Linked DNA regions of Homo sapiens: region 2 is linked to region 1. Evidence: fine-mapped expression QTL. A gene starts in region 1. The other region holds a variant in brackets. All regions are shown on one strand. Distances are between the middles of the regions.

Region 1 (9,249 bases):
AACTCTCTCATCAGCACCTTCACCACCAAACACTTTCACTTCTTCAAAGGAACAAATCAATAAGATTCATTTATTCTTACAACATAATTAGCTTGATAAATTCCTTAAGGAGCTATGGCTGTTAATCCATTTTTATGTAACAAGAAATGTATAAAGCATGTGTAAGTGATGGATTTTTTTAAGAAGTTACAGCAGTTTGGTTACTAGTCCCCCATAAGCAGACTTTACATTTAACTAATAATCAAAAGCCTTTTACATAGATGCAAGTATCTGAAGTACCTTTGACAGAAGGAAAGATAATCAGTAAAGTCTGGAAACAAAAACCTTCCAGGAAGGAGATTAGTCTACACTCCAGAGAAATAATTTTAAATACTGTATTCAATCACCTAAGAAAACAGCCTTACCTGCCTTACAACCTTTTTTATGTAAGCTGCATGTGACCTCCATTGCTTGGGAAAGGACAAGTTCAAGTCTAGACTCTTCTTTGTCCCTCAAGTTTCATCTCTCTCAGTATGCTATGGGTTTGTTTTGTGTTTGTGGGGGTTTTTTGTTTTTTTAAACCACAGCCTTCAACAGGGTACGTATTAGCCCCAATGACTTTGTCCAGAATCTCTGTTCTCTGGAAAATAATTCCAACACACTGCTTTTACAGGTGCTTCTCTTGGTCTCCTAGTCCACATTTTCAAGAAACCAAAATGGCAATTACCCTCCACCACTCACCTTAATATACAGGGAATCTCAAATTTGTCTCAAACCAAAAGCATCTAGCACAAAGTTTTATTTGGAAGAAAGTGCTTCTAAGAAATCATTTTAAACTTGAGACCTTAATGCTGGCAAGATGACTTAGTTGAGTCTTTAAAGAGACACAGAACACACAGGGCCTTCCCCAAACCAGAATATAGTTTTTGTTACAAGACTTCTAACAAGGAAGGATTCTACTGAATTCAAGTTCCTTTAGTTCATACTTTGTTTTATAATACAATCTCAGCTGCTGCATTTAGTAAAAAAGAAAACATTAATCATATGATAGAGTGTTCAAAATAATAGGTTACTCTGCATTTATTCCCTTCCAAAGAGGGTAAGTTTATACTTTTCTGCTCTATATTTAATTTTTCTTGTTAATGAAACCTTATACAACGTAATTCTAGACTGCCCAGAGATATTACTGGATTTGAGTGGGAGGAAGGACTTCTAAAGAAATATGCAAGGATTAACTATTAGGGAAGTGAATTTCATCTGACTTTCTTGGATGTCACAGAGAAAGCTGACTTTTTCTGTGCATAAATTCTTCACCAAGTTGCGTCAATAGGTTGCATAGGTCTTTGTATCAAGAAAGATTTTTTTAAGGTAGCTTCTCAGGTAATTTTTAACCCATTACCTCTTCCCCCTACACATATTGGCACACAAAAGCCCATAAGTATTTCAAGCTAGAAAGGATTATTTGCTACACAGTAGCCCATTTTCCCAGGTTAGCATTATAGTCGTTTCAACTTTACAAAAAAAAAAAATGTTTAACCAAGTACCCCGAATCCAAATCAACAAGACTACATATACACATATATACGTATATATATAAAGACGAGAGGAAAACTATTTTGTTTTAAAATTGGCTCTAAGATGAAGTTTCTAATATGGCATAGTCATTTCCAACCCACTACTGTAACTTACAAATATTGACTGTTTTCTACTCCACATGTGATATCTATTTGTGAGGATAAGTTATATTGCAGGTATAAACTGCATGACTAGCTATACACTATTGCATATACTGTACCAGTCAGATGTAAACATATTAAAAAGTCATCTTGAAAGATATAATTAACCAAGAAAGAAAAAAATTCTCCTAATCACTCTTGCTAGTAACATTTCCCTCTTACAAGTGCTTCGAAATGTGACTAAGAAAATTTTTACCACCTAGTAGTGACAACACTGAGCAACAGGTCAAAAGTAAGTGATCTGGAATGGATCACTTGAGGGCACAGAATTAGTAGCAAGCAGACCCATTCCCAGCTATCACACTGGAGATGAAGAATCTTGTTACTTACTTGCTCTTTCTTAGAAAATAAAAAGATTTAAAGGAAGTAGGGTGAGAAGTATTGGAGACCAAGGAAATCGTGCGAGAGTAAACAGAGGTTTCAACACAGGAGTGCCCTTGACTCTTTTTTGAAAACTAGCTACTTAAAAAAATAGCCAGAGAAATTTCACTGAAAAAACTAAATAACAAATATTTATTGAGAATCTACTATGTGTCCAATACTTCAGGAAAATACAAAAGCAGTATGACTTAGTAGCTGCCCTCAGGGAGCTTACAATCTAATTTAAGAAACAATTCAGAAACTGAAGCTAGACTGAGTTGGGTAAAATTTGCTACCTCTAACAGAACAACTAATTTCTGTAGATGCTTTGTTGAAATGGCCCCTGCATCCCCTTCCCCACCACCTTGATATCTAGTTAGTAAGAGTACTTCCCAGTTAGGACATAGCAAGGAGGAGCTTTAAAGATGAAAAACAAAACAGGACATTTTTAGGCCTTTCATCACTAGTTTATGTGCCAGCAATATTTCCCATTCACAAAGGAAACAATCATTGAGATAGTCTAATCTTTAAGGACAATGGTGTCAGATCTCAAAGCAGTTTTATCAACTGATACACAGCCAAAATGTTTTAATTCTCTGTAATCATTGGGATAGTCTAATCTTTAAGTACAATGGAGACAGATCTCAAAGCAGTTTTATCAACTGATACACAGCCAAAATGTTTTAATTCTCTAGAAACGCTGGTTACTAGTAATGTCCATCACCTCCCAGCAAGTCACATCAGGTATCCCCAAAACAGGATATGCGGCGGAGGAAGGTAGGATGGGAGAGAAGACAAAAAAAAAGGATTTCTCCATTTAATAATCAGGGAGAGTCAAAGGCAAAAACGTTAACAATAATAACAAAAACGCCTGTTACTGTGGTGTTTTTCTTTCCACAACATCCTACACCAGAGGTGGCTACATTTCAAGAATGGTGGAAAAGGAGCAGTCTCCAGTTTGTGACATCAGTTTGCAAAGCAATTTAAGGGCTGTCCACAAGGTTAAGGGTTTGAAGAAACTGGGCATTCCTGTACCATTATGAGAAGAGTGAACAAATACCCCAGTGCTCTAGTGACGTCCCTTAAGCGTAAATACACCCTATGGGGGCCTCCATGTCCAGCTTCCCAAATAACACAATTGTTTGGGGTACCCAAACTACAGTATAAACAGGAAGCTAAAGACAGCAGCAAAAACATATTCCAAGAACTGGGTTGGTGAGAAAGAAGGGAGGGTAATAAGAGGAGCTGACAAAGAGCCTGGAAACGGAGAGGGGACGCAAGCCCACGGGTGGAGGATGGGAGGCTCACCCCCCTCAGCGCCACATCGAGAGCCCACGGGGCCAATCTCCTCCCTACCTCCCAGCCGGAACAAATTAATCCTTCGCACACCAAACTGAGGGCCACATGGGGGAGTTTGGGGGAGCTCCACCCCATCGCCCTCCCTCCCCCACGCCACCCCCAAACCAGGCCGGATCCGGATCAGAGGAGGCCCGCAGTGGGTGGAAAGGGAGGAGGCCCTCTCCTCCGCAGGCACCGGCCGGGGTGAAGAGAGAGCCCTACCTCAGGCAAGGCCCAGGCCTCGCTCGCTCGCGCTCTTTCTCGCTCTCCCCTCTCAGGCTCTAGCCGCATGGCCCCCCCTTCCTACGGCTGCTCCAAGCCCCGCCCCGGCCACGCTCCCAAATCGAGGCCCCGGCTCTGGCGCGGCCCACTAGGCCGCGAACCCAACCATAAACAAAACCTCCGGGGGCCGACTCGAGGTGGGGGGCGCCAGGGCTCGCATGACTCGGGGGGGGGTGTACAGTGGGGGAACACACGGTGTGGGGGGGCCTACCGAGGGAGGGGATACGGCGGGGGCAGGGGAGAAAAGAGGGAGGGTAAAAGGGGGATCGCGGATTTAAAGGGGCCGCGGACAATACCCGGCCCCGCCGCGCTGCCGCTGCCGCCGCCGCCGCCGCCAACGCCGCTGCGCTCCCAACTTTACCTCAGTCTCCTCCACACTGACACCCCGGGCCGCGCCGCCCCTGTCACGTGATATAAGATTCCCTCTTCCCCACCCCCTCCCTCCTTTTCCCTCTCGCGCTCGCTCTCGCGCCTTCCCCCGCCCACTTGCCTTCCTGCGTCCCTCAGCGCGTGACGCTAAAAGGGGCGCGCACGCAAGCGTGCGCGTGCCGCCTCGCCACGAGACACCTCTTTCCGGCTCCGCGAGTCCACCCCGCCTCCTTCACGGCGGCCCTGCCTCCACCACGTGACGCACGGATGGCCGCCGCTTCCTCTTACTGTCGTAGTTCCGCGTCTGAGCGCTCGACGCTCCTGGGTGCCATTGCCTGCCTGAGTCACGTGTCAGGGGGAAGCTGGAAGGCGTCGTTCTCCTTTCCCAGCTCTCCTGCCTGTCCGCCATGTTTTCAGGCCGGGTCTGGCTTGGTCTTCCCCCGTAAGGAAATGGCCGGGGAGCTCCAGGGGACCCAGGCGCCGTCGCTTCGGCGGAGCCTGGGCTGACCAGCCAGGACAGCGGGGTAAACCCGAACAATTCTGCGCGAGGTAGGGAGGCCATGGCGTCCGGCAGTAACTGGCTCTCCGGGGTGAATGTCGTGCTGGTGATGGCCTACGGGAGCCTGGTGAGGAGATTACCCCACCCCATTCCTGCTGTCGCATCTTACCCAGTAGAGACCCTCCTTTTGAGCTGTACCCCGTCTGCATTCTCCACCCACTCACCTGCGCCTATCCGGGCTTTGACTCCTTATTCCAGGAGTAGGTGGGAGTTTAAGTCACTTAGTCGGGCCGACCCGCCCTCGTTAGTCTAGAACCCTCCCTTTAACGCTAGAGCACAGACCCCACGCCTCCCTGCTGCTGGCTTCTTAGATCCACCCCCATCATAACGGCCTTGCTTTGCCCCAAGTTTTACCCTGAAACATTCCTGAGAGCCGGAATCTGGGGATTTGGAATGAAGGCATGCTTTTTTAAAAAAAAAACAAAACAAAACTGACTTTTTATTAAAGGATTTTTACATCTTTTTGGACAGGTGTTTGTACTGCTATTTATTTTTGTGAAGAGGCAAATCATGCGCTTTGCAATGAAATCTCGAAGGGGACCTCATGTCCCTGTGGGACACAATGCCCCCAAGGTAGGTCCTTAGGGCACAAGTTAAACATACTTCTCCAGATCTTTTAGGGTCAAGAATGAGATTTCCTCTGCCTTTAGTGATGACTTTAATTCTCATGTTTCTTTGCGTGCACTTGTCCTTGTACTTACTAAGTTGAGCAGGCACTGTGCGCTTTGGAACTTGGCTTACCTGCTCAGTGCTGTGGCAAGCATGTGGCTCATCCTGGAACTTCTGTTTTTGTATCTGCAGAATGAAGGGCTTGGGTCGAAGTTCCCAACTGTTTGTAGTAAAATATTTCCCAGCTCATCTTAAACTACCCAGTGTTTTTTGTTTGATTAGGATGGGGTTGAGATCATTAAGGTTAACCCAAGAGCAATGAGAAGGGTTACCTTTACATAATTTTAGACTTAAGAGGAGCTCCATAAATCATCTAATTCCACCATTCATGTTACCAAGAAGCCCAAGAAAAGGAGGCAGTTTACCAGAAGACGTATAGGAAGTGAATAACCCAGTGGTCTTTTATCTTTGTCTGTACTTTCTCCTTAGGTGACTGTCTTCCTTTCCTTGGCTTTAGCTACAGATGAAATTTTATCTCTATCCTAGAACTCTTTCCTGAGTTCCTTACATATATTGCCAACTGATTACCTGACATTTCCACTTAGATTTGTAGTAGACATCTCAAACCCAACATTTGTGAATCAGAATTATTGCTATCCCACTGCCACTCTCATTCTGCTTCTTTAGTCTTTCGCTTCTAAGTAAAAGACACCTGCTTCCCTTACCAACCCCCTTTTGTGTGGCTCTCCCCAGATCACTGGGACCCAGCTCCACTGGCTGAATTTTCCACCCTTTTTGCTCCTGTGATCTGGAATGGTCTTCAATTGGCTAGCTCATTCATTCTTTTGATCTTAGCTTAAATGTTACTTCCAAAAAAGGAATGCTTATTACCTATTTTAAAGTAGGTTCCCCCTCTCTTTATTTTCACATGGTACCCTGATTTTTCCTTCATAGCATTTACCATAATTTTTATGTTTGTCCATTTGTTTAAAACATGCCTCTCTCTTCCGCTAGACCGTAAGCTTCAAGAATGCAGGCACCATGCCAGTTTTGTTCACGACTATAAAGCCAGGACCTACACATAGTAGGTACTCAGTAATTTCTTGTTGAATGAAAAACAGGTTAGTGCCAGGGCCTACACATAGCAGGTACTCTGTAATTTGTTGCTGAATGAAAAACAGGTTAGTTGTAGAGCTAGAGCTCATGACTCCCTCAACTCCTAGAGCACTGTACTTTCATTAACAAGTGCTATTAACCTTCCCCTCTTTGTTCTTTGCTGACATAGTACATGAAAAGGCTCTAGGAGGATGTCCTGGCTTGAAACCTTAACAGTCCTGCCTGCCTCATGAGAAAGACATAGGGTTAGTTTCTAGCACATCATGAACCAATCAATACTTTGGCTATTCAGGGGTCCCTTGGTCTAGTTCAGAGCAATATTCCTTTTGCTTAAAAATTTTTTCTAAATTCTCAACCATTGCTAGTGAAAGTATAAATTAGTAAAACCACTTTGGAAAATAACTGGTCATTGTCTGGTAAGATTGCACATGTACCTAATCCATGGTCCAACAGTTTCTCTCCTACCATAGAGAAATTAAGTTTTGCTCATGTGTACCAAGAAACATGTGCAAGATTATTTATAGGGGCATTGTTCATAATATTTGAAGAAGAAACTTAATTCAAATGTCCACTTTTCAATTATTATATAGGCTGAGTGCAGTGGCTCATACCTGTAGTCCTAGCACTTTGGGAGGCTGAGGCCAGAAGATCATGTGAGCCCAGGAGTTACAGACTGCAGTGAGCTATGATTGCACTGATGCACTCCAGCATGGGCAAGAGCAAGACCTTGTTTCTAAAAAATAGGTAGTGGTATATTCATATTCTGGAATAGTGTAAAAAATGAAAAACTGAAGATAAATATATGAAGACAAGTCCTCAAAATACTTCTGAATGAAAAAAATTGCAAACATGAATCTCAAAAACATGCTGAGTGGGCCGGGCATGGTAGCTCATGCCGGTAATCCCAGCACTTAGGGAGGCCGAGTTGGGCAGATAACACTTGAGGTCAGGAGTTCGAGACCAGACCAGCCAACATGGTGAAACCCAATCTCTACTAAAAATACAAGAAAAAAATCCTAACTACTCGGGACGCTGAGGTAGGAGAATCCCTTGAACCCAGGTGGCAGAGGTTGTAGTAAGCTGAGATCAAACCACTGCACTCCAGCCTGGGTGACAGAGCGAGACTCTGTCTCACCAAAAACAAAAAAACCATGCTGAGTGAAGAAAGCCAAAATGCCGTTCACAAGAGAATATGTACCATGTGCTTCCACCCCATTTATATGAAATTCTAGAACAGGCAGAACTGTAAAAGAGTACATCATGTTGCCTGGGCTGGGAGAGGGGAGATTTCCAGGTGATGAAAATATTCTTTACTTTGATTGACGTGGTGGTGAAGGGGGTATGTTCATTTGTCAAACTCATCAATTTATATACATAAAATGAATGCATTTATTGTATGTAAATTCAACCTCAATAAAGTATATTTGAAAAATTTTGCTGGGTGCGGTGGCTAACGCCTGTAATCCCAGCACTTTGGGAGGCTGAGGCAGGTGGATCACCTGAGGTCAGGAGTTCAAGACCAGCCTGGCCAACACGGTGAAACCCCGACTGTACTAAAAATGCAAAAAAATTAGCTGGGCGTGGCGGTGTGTGCCTGTAATCCCAGCTACTCAGGAGGCTGAGGCAGGAGAATCACTTGAGCCCCGGCGGAGGTTGCAGTGAGCAGAGATCACACCATTGCACTCCAGCCTGGGTGACAGAGTGAGTCTCTGTATCAAAAAAAAAAAAAATTTAAGGCCAGGCGAGGTGGTTTACACCTGTAATCCTAGCACTTTGGGAGGCCGAGGCAGGCTGATCACGTCAGCTCAGGAGTTCGAGACCAGCGTAGGCAATATGGGGAAACCCTGTCTCTATAAAAAGTTTAAAAATGGGCCAGGCGCGGTGGTTCACGCCTGTAATCCCAGCACTTTGGGAGGCCCACATGAGAAGATCACAAGGTCAGGAGTTTGAGACCAGCCTGGCGAGCATGGTGAGACCCCATCTCTACGAAAAATACAAAAAATTAGCTGGGCATGGTGGCATGCGCCTGTAGTCCCAGCTACTTGGGAGGCTGAGGCAGGAGGGCAAGGAGAATTGCTTGAACCCAGCAGGCAGAGGTTGCAATGAGCCAAGATCATGCCACTGTACTCCAGTCTGGGTGACAGAGCAAGACTCCATCTCAAAAAAAAAAAATGTTTAATAATTAGCCATGCATGGTGGTGTGTGCCTGTAACCCCAGCTACTCAGGAGGCTAAGGCAGGAGGATCATCTGAGCTCAGGAGGTGGAGGTTATAGTGAGCTGAGATTGTGCCATTGCACTCCAGCCTGGGTGACAGAGTGTGACCCTGTCTCAAAAAAAAAAAATTTTTTTTTTAAACAAGTTGCAGAGGGATTCTTAAAGTATTTTTCCATTTGTATCAAGTTGAAAACCAGGCAAAGCTAAGCATCTTTTTTAGGGTGACACGATAAAACAGTGAAGAAGTGTATGAGGACTATTGACAAGTTAAGGTTTGGGGTGCGGAGCATTCAATGAGGGATGGGCACACAAGACTTGAAAGTTAGTGGTAGGGCCGGGCGCGGTGGCTCACGCCTGTAATCCCAGCACTTTGGGAGGCCGAGGCGGGTGGATCATGAGGTCAGCAGATCGAGACCAACCTGGCTAACAAGGTGAAACCCCGTCTCTACTAAAAATACAAAAAATTAGCCAGGCGTGGTGGCGGGCGCCTGTAGTCCCAGCTACTCGGGAGGCTGAGGCAGGAGAATGGCGTGAACCCGGGAGGCGGAGCTTGCAGTGAGCTGAGATTGCGCCACTGCACTCCAGCCTGGGCGACAGAGCGAGACTCCGTCTCAAAAAAAAAAAAAAAGAAAGTTAGTGGTAATGTTCCATTGCATAAACTGGATATTGGTTATAGGTGTTCATTA
Region 2 (9,249 bases), 42 kb before region 1:
AAAGAATGGAATGAACTAGTTTCCTGTCACTCTCATACTTATTCTCTTGAAAAGTTATGAAAAAGGTTGGGAGTAGGTAGGAAAAGGGGCCAGGAGAGTTGCACAGTAAATTACATGACACGATAAACAATTTGCCACGCTTTACCTTCCTATTACGTTTCTCGTTTTTTTTCTCAGAGGGCTAAATTTTAACTTCTTAGAGGAAGTGAAGTCTAGAGAAGACCTTTCATTTAGAAAAAGTAGGATGGGTTTCCTGCCACCTCTCCTAGGGTTCTTCTTGTCCACTGTTATTTCTACCATTGCAACTCCACCTCCTCTATGTCTATCTCTTTTCCACTTTTATCCAGAGCCAGGCACCTACCTGGGTTTTGGAGTACACAGAACCCGAGATATCTGGCACGCCCGTGTTACTGGAGGTGACTGAAACACCTGGGGGAGGAGGAAACAGACAGGAGGATTAGCTCAGCTAGCTACCTGGCCCTTATTCCTGAGATGAGGTGATATCTGTAGCCTTTCTAGCTATACCAATGCAAGGGAATTTTGGTCGGTTTTCCAGCTTCAAGTTAGTCCTGAGAGGTAAGAGTTCATGAAACAAAAGCTCCCTAAGGGTTCTTTGGCCCTTCCCAGGTACGTGTTGAGTATACGTGAGAGAGAGTGAGGTAAGTTGTTTTTTGGTGGGCAAGGGGATATGACCAAACCTCACTAGCATACACTGTTTTCAAAACACTTCTGTGCCAAAGTCTAGCAGGAATATAATAAACTTTTAATTTTAATGTCCATTTCAAATCAATCCACCCAAATGCCACTCAGTTTTATTCCTGGAGACTGGGGCAGTCTGGCCCTCTCTCTTCCTGAAGTGACATTTCTGGGCTCAAAATCCATGCCTCCACTGCATAAGTACTAGAGGAGCAGTCCACTTTAATCCCCAAGGGCACTCTCATTCTCAGAGCCTCAGCTCAATTAGTCCAGCTTCTTTAGTCTTGGAGCATCTAGGCTAAATCTTCAAACTTAAGATGTAAAGGTCTAGTATCAAGATCAATTTCCATGTACACAATTTAAGCCTAAGTGTAGCGGGGTGGGGAGGGATAGGTAGACAGGAGTAGGCCATCTCCTATAGCCTAGGTGGAACACAAAAACCACGTCATTTTCAGTATACAACTTCAGCTTCTCCGTAAGATAAAAGCTCTCATACCCCAACTCTCATATTTCCTGTTGAAAAAAACTCCCTACTAACCACTACAACTTTAAAGAAACCAGAGTAGTACAACATGTCATTCTAATTTGTACTCCTCAAACAAATAAATACTCATACTATATTCCATCACCTGGGGTATAAGGCATCGGGTCAAGAAGATAGGAAAAGCCATGAAATAAATAACCTAACATCTTTTATACTTTCCATTTTGAAACAAAGATGTGAAGAAAAGTAAGTAATTTAACTAGGAATATAAAGCATGATTTTAAAAAGATATATTAGTTTTTATAAAAATAAAACAAAGCTTCAGAAAAACTTTGCCTGTCTATGCCCTTGGATCCTTCCCATCAGAGGTACACATTTCCTTCTCCTCTGCTATCAGGAACACTGATGGAAAAGAGTTTTAGAAGCAGTGTACTAGAGTGGCCAAATCACAAATAAGGAATCCTCCATTCACCCACAATTCAAACTCTAGAACCTAAATCCTCCCAATGCCTCAGACAAAGGCAGCCTTCCAAAGTTAAGCCCACCTTGAACAGTCACTTTTGAAGTGGTATCTTAATCTGGAAAACCTTCCCAACATCCTAAGTCCAGATAGTTCCTGGGAGGGGCAAACACTAACTAGGAAAAATAACGGAACTACAGAAAACCAAGCAAGAGAAAATACTTCCTCATCTCCGAAGCATCAACTGTCTAAAGACACTGAAGTAAAAGAAGGGAACGATACAGGAGTATCTTAAAGGGCTAATGGGGTATTTTTTCCATTCCCTTTTCAAACCCGAGGTGCCCATCTGGCAAATCACTGAGTAACAGGCATAACTTTTAAGAATAGGAAGTTCAGTTATGGAAAAGGCTTAAGCTAGTAAGTTCATGTGGAAGGGTGGAGAGTAAAGGTGGAATAAACAGGATATAAGTAGAACATTTTTAAGTCAAACCAAAAGAGAGAATTTATCTTTACTGCAAAGGCAAAAAAAAAATAAAAAAATAAAAAATAGCATAGTTGGTCACCTTCTGCAGTGAGGCTAGGCTGCCTATATTGGATGGAAGAAATGACTAACTGGATTCTCAAGCCGAGTGGTAGGGAGGAATTCAGCTCCAGTGTGCCCCTACCTGATCTCATTCTTTCCAGAGTTTAGGCTAAAAACAGCTTCTAGTCCAGAGGCCTTATCTTTGATATGAGGTTGAAGGGACTGAGAATGCAGGAACCATAATACTCTGTAGTAGCCATAATAATCTCAATTACAGTATTAGAGACCTAGAAAATAATGGGTACTGATTTCACTACCCCTCACCAGTTATTAGGAAGATCTTCAGACTACAGAGTTCTCTTGCTTTCCTTCCAACATCAACACCCCCTACTTATCCCCAAACAGTGACAATACCAGAATCACGTGGGCAGCAGGGCAGAGACACATGAATCTATCTCTCCCACCATGGCAGCCCCTGGGAAAGGTGGTCACACTCCACAGAGCAAAATTACTCCAAAGGGCTGGGAACAAATACAAGGAAAGCTGAATACTTTGGTTTCTAATTCACCCAGGGTGGTGATCTCACTGTCCACGTTAACTTTATAAACAAAGGGCTAATGTTGTATGCTAGCTGGACTGGGAGGGAATTAGAATTTCCATAGTCAAGGAGATATCTGACCAAACCGCTCCTGCACATCCTTAGCTTATACCCACAAATGCAAAACTGGTAATCCACGATCTCTGAAAAGCCATCAAGGGACTAAGAACAATGTTCCAGGATAGCACAGTCGCCACAGAGCCTGAGTCATCAACTAGCTTATCACTAATGACTTTATCAGATCTTAGCCACTTGGCCTTTAGGAACCAGATAGATGTGGGAATTAAGCCTTGAAAGATACTTCTCTAACAGCTCTGAAAACTCTCTCTTTTGCCTTTCACCATGACATGACACTCCAAACTTTTTTGTCCTTTCCCCCACTGCTTATGTAAGAGGCAAAGGAAAGATCTAAATGGAAAAATGAAGCAACATAAGCATGGAGAATCAGGTATTTCTACAAATAGTTTCCTTTACCAACTAATCAACAGGTGGGAAACTGAGGCTGTTTCCCCTCCCCCCACCTTCATAAAACCACCATACTGAAAAATTAATAGTTCTTTGGCTATGCTGGGGTTTGATTAAAAAGGCCACCCTCCACCCTTCATCCACAGCACAGCATTGGTTCCTAGTGTCCACAAAGACATGCACGGAAAGAACGCCAGAGTTAGCTAAAGAAATACCACAGTTTATTGAAGACTACAAATATTTTTGTTACAAGTTGAAACTACATGCCTTCCAGAAATCAAAAGCAACAGCAGGTGTGTGCATTGATGCTTCGAAGGTGCTGCACCGCTTGAACTTGAAATGGGTAAGACAGGGTCAGACACATGGGGGAGAGGGAAATGGGGGAGGGGCAAGTTCAAAAGCCCAGAAGGTATCCACCAACTCATTTCCCCAAGCCACGCAGGCCATGGCCTCAGCTCAGCAGGCTCTCCTCAGTGGTCTGGTTTCTGAAACAAGACTTCAGTGCAAATTTATACACACACA[C/T]AAAACACAGCCCCCAGCCTTGGGCCAAATTAGCTCTCAGCCGTCCAGAAATGCTTGTAAGGGGGTGGATATTTTCTTCCTAAAAGGAATCAAATACATAAAAATAAATGAATGGAATGACAAAAGCCCTTTGTGGGGTTGGGAACTGGGGGTTCTCAAGGGCTGATATAATACGTTTCTGAATTCTGAAGGGAGGCAAGAAGGTGGGATTTCTAGAATCAGGTATGCCAATTCTCTTATATTATCCATCACCTACCTCTTAAAATTCGTGAACCTGGTCCAACTAAGACTTCAACCTAATGTCCTCAGAAAGGGGCCACCACTCCAAGTCAAAAGGCTTATAATCCTCCCCACCAAGATTTAGGGTGAACCTTGCTCAATGACAGGGGTGGCCACAAGGAGTCTATGTATTAAATCTCAATGGGGCTTCTCAGGATTTGTTTAATTTAACTCATGACCCACTCTAACTCATGCAGCACAGTTCAAAGCTCCACTTGGCTATCAGTTCCTAGCCCTTACTGCCTTCTGTGCTCTTCCCAATTATTGAAAACTGTGGGCAACTGACCCACCCAGAGCCCACATAAGGGTGAAAAACACATGCTGCTCTATCCAAATCACCATGAAACTGTAACTGAGCTGACAGCTTTGAAGGACAACCCCCATCCCCAACCCTAAGCAATCAGAGAAACCTACTCCTCCCCTATTCATCTACAAGTCGCTGAAAAGGTACAATTATATTATTCAAAGATTCCTTCTCACTCCCTGTCCTCCAAAAGTAGAGCACAGATGTCAGGTATGGAAGCAAGGGAGAGGCTGAGTATCTTTTAGGTAAGTACCCATCCAGAGGATTCCTACAATTCCCTCCCTGCCATCACATATGCAAAAAGACTTGCAAAGAGACCAGCCATACAAATGAAGGAACCTAAAGGCCCAACTCTCCCAGTCCAATTCCCACTCTATTAAGTATGGTCACGCCTACTCCTTTTTCTCCACAGTTTAGGTCTTCTAGCTAGGGAATAAAAAAGGACACATAAGAAAAGTAGTGCTACAAAGTGATTTAAGCCAAACCTATCGTAGGCTGCTAGCTATGAACCCATTTAATCCTTCTACTCAGTGAATACACCCCCCTTTTGTACTATCAGTGCCATACATACTATTAACACTTGCCTCCACTGACATTTCAGCAAAATCTTGGGGCTCCTTGCCCTACTTCCACCCACACTTTTGGCCAACCAACATATTCTAAAAACCAACACATACTCTTGGGCATTCCCGTCACAAATAGTGGACACATGTCCTAGTATCAAGCTCCTCTGTTGGTGCTGCTCCCACAGATACCCAAGTCAGCCAAGCATTAACAATCATACCTGGGGCAGCGGCACACCCTCACCAATCCCATTTTCTCAAGCACCAAGTCTTCCTCCCTGAAATTTATCCAATAACACCCCACAGATAACACCGAGCCAGAGACAAGGTCAGCTTACCAGTGTTGTATCCATGAGACCCATATCCACTCGGCTGTTGGAAAGGGGTGGCCGATGCATTCACACTGACATTCACACCATGCTGCTTGGAAGAGGTAGGAGCCACCTAAAGAGCAAAAAGGCCAGATTTGCAGTGACTTGGCAGCAGAATACCATCTGTCCCACTTGTCCTGCTCCAGGTACTGGCCATTCAGATGGCTACCTATCCTGATGCAAGTTGACTACAGTTTGCTTAGTGAAATTAGCTCCTTACTAACTGTTCTAGAATCTACTAATGAAGTCAAGAAATGGTAGTTTGGAGGAAGAAAAAGGGACAATGGCAGCAGGGAATGAATGAATCTGAGTGAAGCAAAGCTGTATGGTATCATATTCTCCCTTTGGCAAATTCTAAGACTAGGCAATCCCTATCCTAATTCCACCAATTCCAGCCCCATTCCCCCACCACCCTGCATCAGGCCAAAAACAGGCCAGAGGTGGAAACTGTTCCTCCTCATCCATTATTAAAGTCATTGACCCTTAAAAGCAGCTAGGATAGTGTCCAGGGCTAGGATCCTTCACCACAAGGAGTGACCAAAGCCAGGTACTCACAGGGAACACAGCAGGCCCATACTGGAAGGTGCTGGGGAGGCCCGGGACCCCTGTATAGTATGGCAGGCTGGTGTAACTGTAGCCAGGAGGCAGCGCCGGGTTCAGGAATGTCTGCTGCGTGGTATGGTGAGTCTGCGTCTGGTTCTGTTGGGGTTGGGCCAAGGTTGTGGCCGGGGCTGGGGAGGAGGCATCCCCACGGCCGAACTTTGTGAGGTCACCTGTGACAGGAGAAGCTAAATGTACCTGCCTCTTTCACCCCAATACCAATACAGAATTACCTCTTCTGATTTCACATGATTCCAGGAGATCCTGTTCAAAGACTATTAAAGTTCAATTCCTTGAATTACATTTCTTAGTGGCTCCAATTATTGTTGCTCAGCATACACTTAGCACAGTTGCTGCAAGTCAAGGACTAATGTTGAATAACTGTGCAATGCTATGGCAGGAGGCTCTTGGAATAAGGCACCTGCACAATTTCTCTGCCCACTTGTGTTCTCTTTCATCTTCCCTCTTCTTCCCTCCCCTCTTCTCCTCCATGGGGAATACCCCATGCTGGACTTGAAGGACAACGATGGATCAGGGAAAACGGTAAGTCAATGAGGACAATGATAGGTCAGGTAAAAGAAGGAGTGGCAAGGCAGTGAGATTGCCACTGTGAGTAGTAGCATAAAGGGGCAGAGATGAGCAGAGAAGACCACCTCAACCACTGTATTTCCTGGAAAAAGCTAGCAAATGGCTTGAAACTAAGTCAAGATATCACTTTTTTTGGAGATGGGGTCTTGCTATGTTGCCCAGGCTGGTCTTGAACTCCTGGGCTCAAGCAATTCTCCCACCTTGGCCTCCCAAGTAGCTGAGACTACAAGTGTGTGCTACCATGCCTGGCTAAGATATCATCTAGAAATCACAGGGAGACAACACAAAGTGGGATGAATAGGAAAAGCCATGACATGCCCAACTTTAGCAGGATTTTGAATCTACCAATCCTGATTTATCACATCCCTTCTTGCTACCAATCAGGTGTCTGCCATCAATCCCAACACTATCTCCCTTTTTATTTATTTAGTCCCATCCCAATCCTACCAGAATAAGGGTTGCTGGCCAGGCTACCATCCCTCCCAGTCAGCGGAGTAGTGGGTGTGGGAAATGGGATGCTGTAGTAATCCTAGAAAAGAGGGGAAAAAAGAGCAGAGATTCAATGTCACTCATTCCCCAGCATGAGTACTATTTCCACGGAGGAAAAAACAGAAGAATGTGAGAGTTGTGCAATTTATCCAGTCACTAATTAAGCTGGCTAGAGTTAGCACAAACTCCACATTACTCTTGCATACACTGTCCCCCCTGCCTGGCCATGAGCACAGTCAGACAAGGTCTACGGGTATGCCCACTTGAGAATACATCAAAGTCCACGAGGACCAATATTTTCAACCCTCTAGGTGTCATCCCTATCAGTTTATACCAAGCTTATTCTACTGAGAAAACAGATCATTCGATAATTTAAAGTGTCTGGGACAAACAGAAAGCACCCTGAGTGCTCCAGAGTACTTTACTGGGCTATAGAATAGGTTAAAATGTATTTACTAAGATGCCACAACTCTGATTTAAAAAAAGAAAAAAAAAAGGCTGGGTGCGGCGGCTCATGCCTATAAGCTCAGCACTTAGGGAGGCAGAGGCGGGTGGATCATAAGGTCAGGAGTTCAAGACCAGCTTGGCCAAGATGGTGAAACCCCGCCTCTACTAAAAATACAAAAAAAATTAGCTGGGGGTGGTGGTGGGCACCTTTAATCCCAGCTACTCGGAAGGCTGAGGCAGACAATTGCTTTAACCCAGGCGGCGGAGGTTGCAATGAGCCAAGATCACACCACTGCACTCCAGCTTGAGCGACAGAGAAAGACTCTGTCTCAAAAAAAAAAGTTATCTTCTGTTGGAAACCCTCCCCCAAATCCCTATATTCTAATATGCCTTAAATCAGAGTGTATGGAGGGCTGGGATGGGAAAGAGCTATGTCTGTGACGGAGATAATTCTCCCAACACTAATTTTAAGACTACTTTCTTTTCCAAAGCTCTATCCCACATACTCACCAATGGAAATCTTGTCTGAAGCATCTGCAAGTCATCATAACCATATACTTGTGGCTGAAAGATACAGACATATAGCAATAACAGGAACTGGTCATGATGTTAGCAAAACAAGGAGCCAAGAGACAAGCTAATTCAACAGAACATTCATCCTCATTCTGGGTTAGAACAGGACACGGATTATTTCCTTCAATTTTATTTAAGGAAAAAGCAGTAAAGTACACAGAGATTAAATGATTCATGAAAGGTCTTGAAGCTTTCCTTGAGCTAAATACTACTGATTCTAGTAGGCTGGCTTCTTGATACCAATAGAGTAGACACAAAACATACACGAACAACCAGTTTTACTCTCTATTCTACAAGTCTCTGTCTCTTATACTCTTCAAAATCTGGCTTAAAAATAATCTCCTCTGGAAAGAATACTTCACTTTTCTCCAATGTCAGGGTTTTAAGGTAGTGACCACAAATTAAAAATGTGTAACTGTGTTATTTGGATGTGTCATCGGTATGAAATTTATCTAGACTTTGTCTATGAGGGCAGGAACAGGTATCTTCTAAAACGTTTCCATATATCCTTCATCTTAATAGGTACCAAATACTTGAAGGTCACAGAAGATACACTAGGGCAAAAAGCTACTAATGTCAGCCACTTATTCTCAAAGTCCCAGATTGAGTCAGGAAACTTTCCTCTAACCAGGCCAGACCAGCAAACACACTCAGAGTTAGGGATTTAATCAAATCAGAGAAAATAATTCTTGGGGCCAGGAGTAGTGGCTCAGGCCTATATATAACCCCAGTTATTTGAGAGGCTGAGGCAGGAGGACTGTCTGAACCTGGGATTTTGAGACCAGCCTAGGCAACATAGGAAGACCCTGTCTCTAAAAAAATTTTTAAAACTTAGCCAGGCATGGGGATGCACACCTGTAGTCCTAGCTACTTGGGGAGTCTGAGGTGAGAGGATTGCTTGAGCCCAGGAGTTCAAGGCTGCAGTGAGCTAGCTATGATCGTTCCACTGTACTCCAACCTGGGTAAAAGAGCAAGATCTGCCTCAAAAAATAAAATAATAGTCATAATTATCTAAGAAACCAAAAAGGATTCCAGATGAACATTCTGGCCTTTGGCTTCTGAGGCCCAGAAGCTGTGTTTCAAACAGGGCAGATATTCTCATCACACATATACATACACATTGTACGCACACACACACATGCATACATGTGTGCACCATAAACCAAAGCAGATACACAATAGATGGGTTGGCCTCAGTTTAGTATTTTTTCCAAAACTGCAAAGATTAAAAACCAGTTTGATTACATGTGGCAATCCCTCATTTATTTTATATTTTAATTACAGTTG

What was found. PIP is the estimated chance that this variant, and not a neighbour inherited with it, causes the effect.
Region 2: its variant is fine-mapped to the expression of LTAP1 in whole blood (TOPMed, PIP above 0.99).

Annotation. Positions count from the first base shown.
Region 1 is chr1:154,215,783-154,225,031 of GRCh38, reverse strand. LTAP1 (lipid transport auxiliary protein 1) reads left to right here and starts at 4,442. Exons shown (of 7, transcript NM_001098616.3): 1 at 4,442-4,690; 2 at 5,095-5,196. The coding sequence starts at 4,625. It overlaps UBAP2L (ubiquitin associated protein 2 like), which reads right to left and starts at 4,077. Exons shown (of 27, transcript NM_014847.4): 1 at 4,057-4,077. RefSeq lists silencers at 3,904-4,053, 4,914-4,983 and enhancers at 3,574-4,321, 4,304-4,743, 4,322-5,069.
Region 2 is chr1:154,257,681-154,266,929 of GRCh38, reverse strand. UBAP2L (ubiquitin associated protein 2 like) reads right to left here. Exons shown (of 27, transcript NM_014847.4): 21 at 7,900-7,953; 22 at 6,901-6,982; 23 at 5,821-6,038; 24 at 5,233-5,338; 25 at 362-429. It overlaps SNORA58B (small nucleolar RNA, H/ACA box 58B), which reads right to left and starts at 7,203; the gene lies at 7,068-7,203. The variant C/T (reference allele first, on the strand shown) is at 3,749.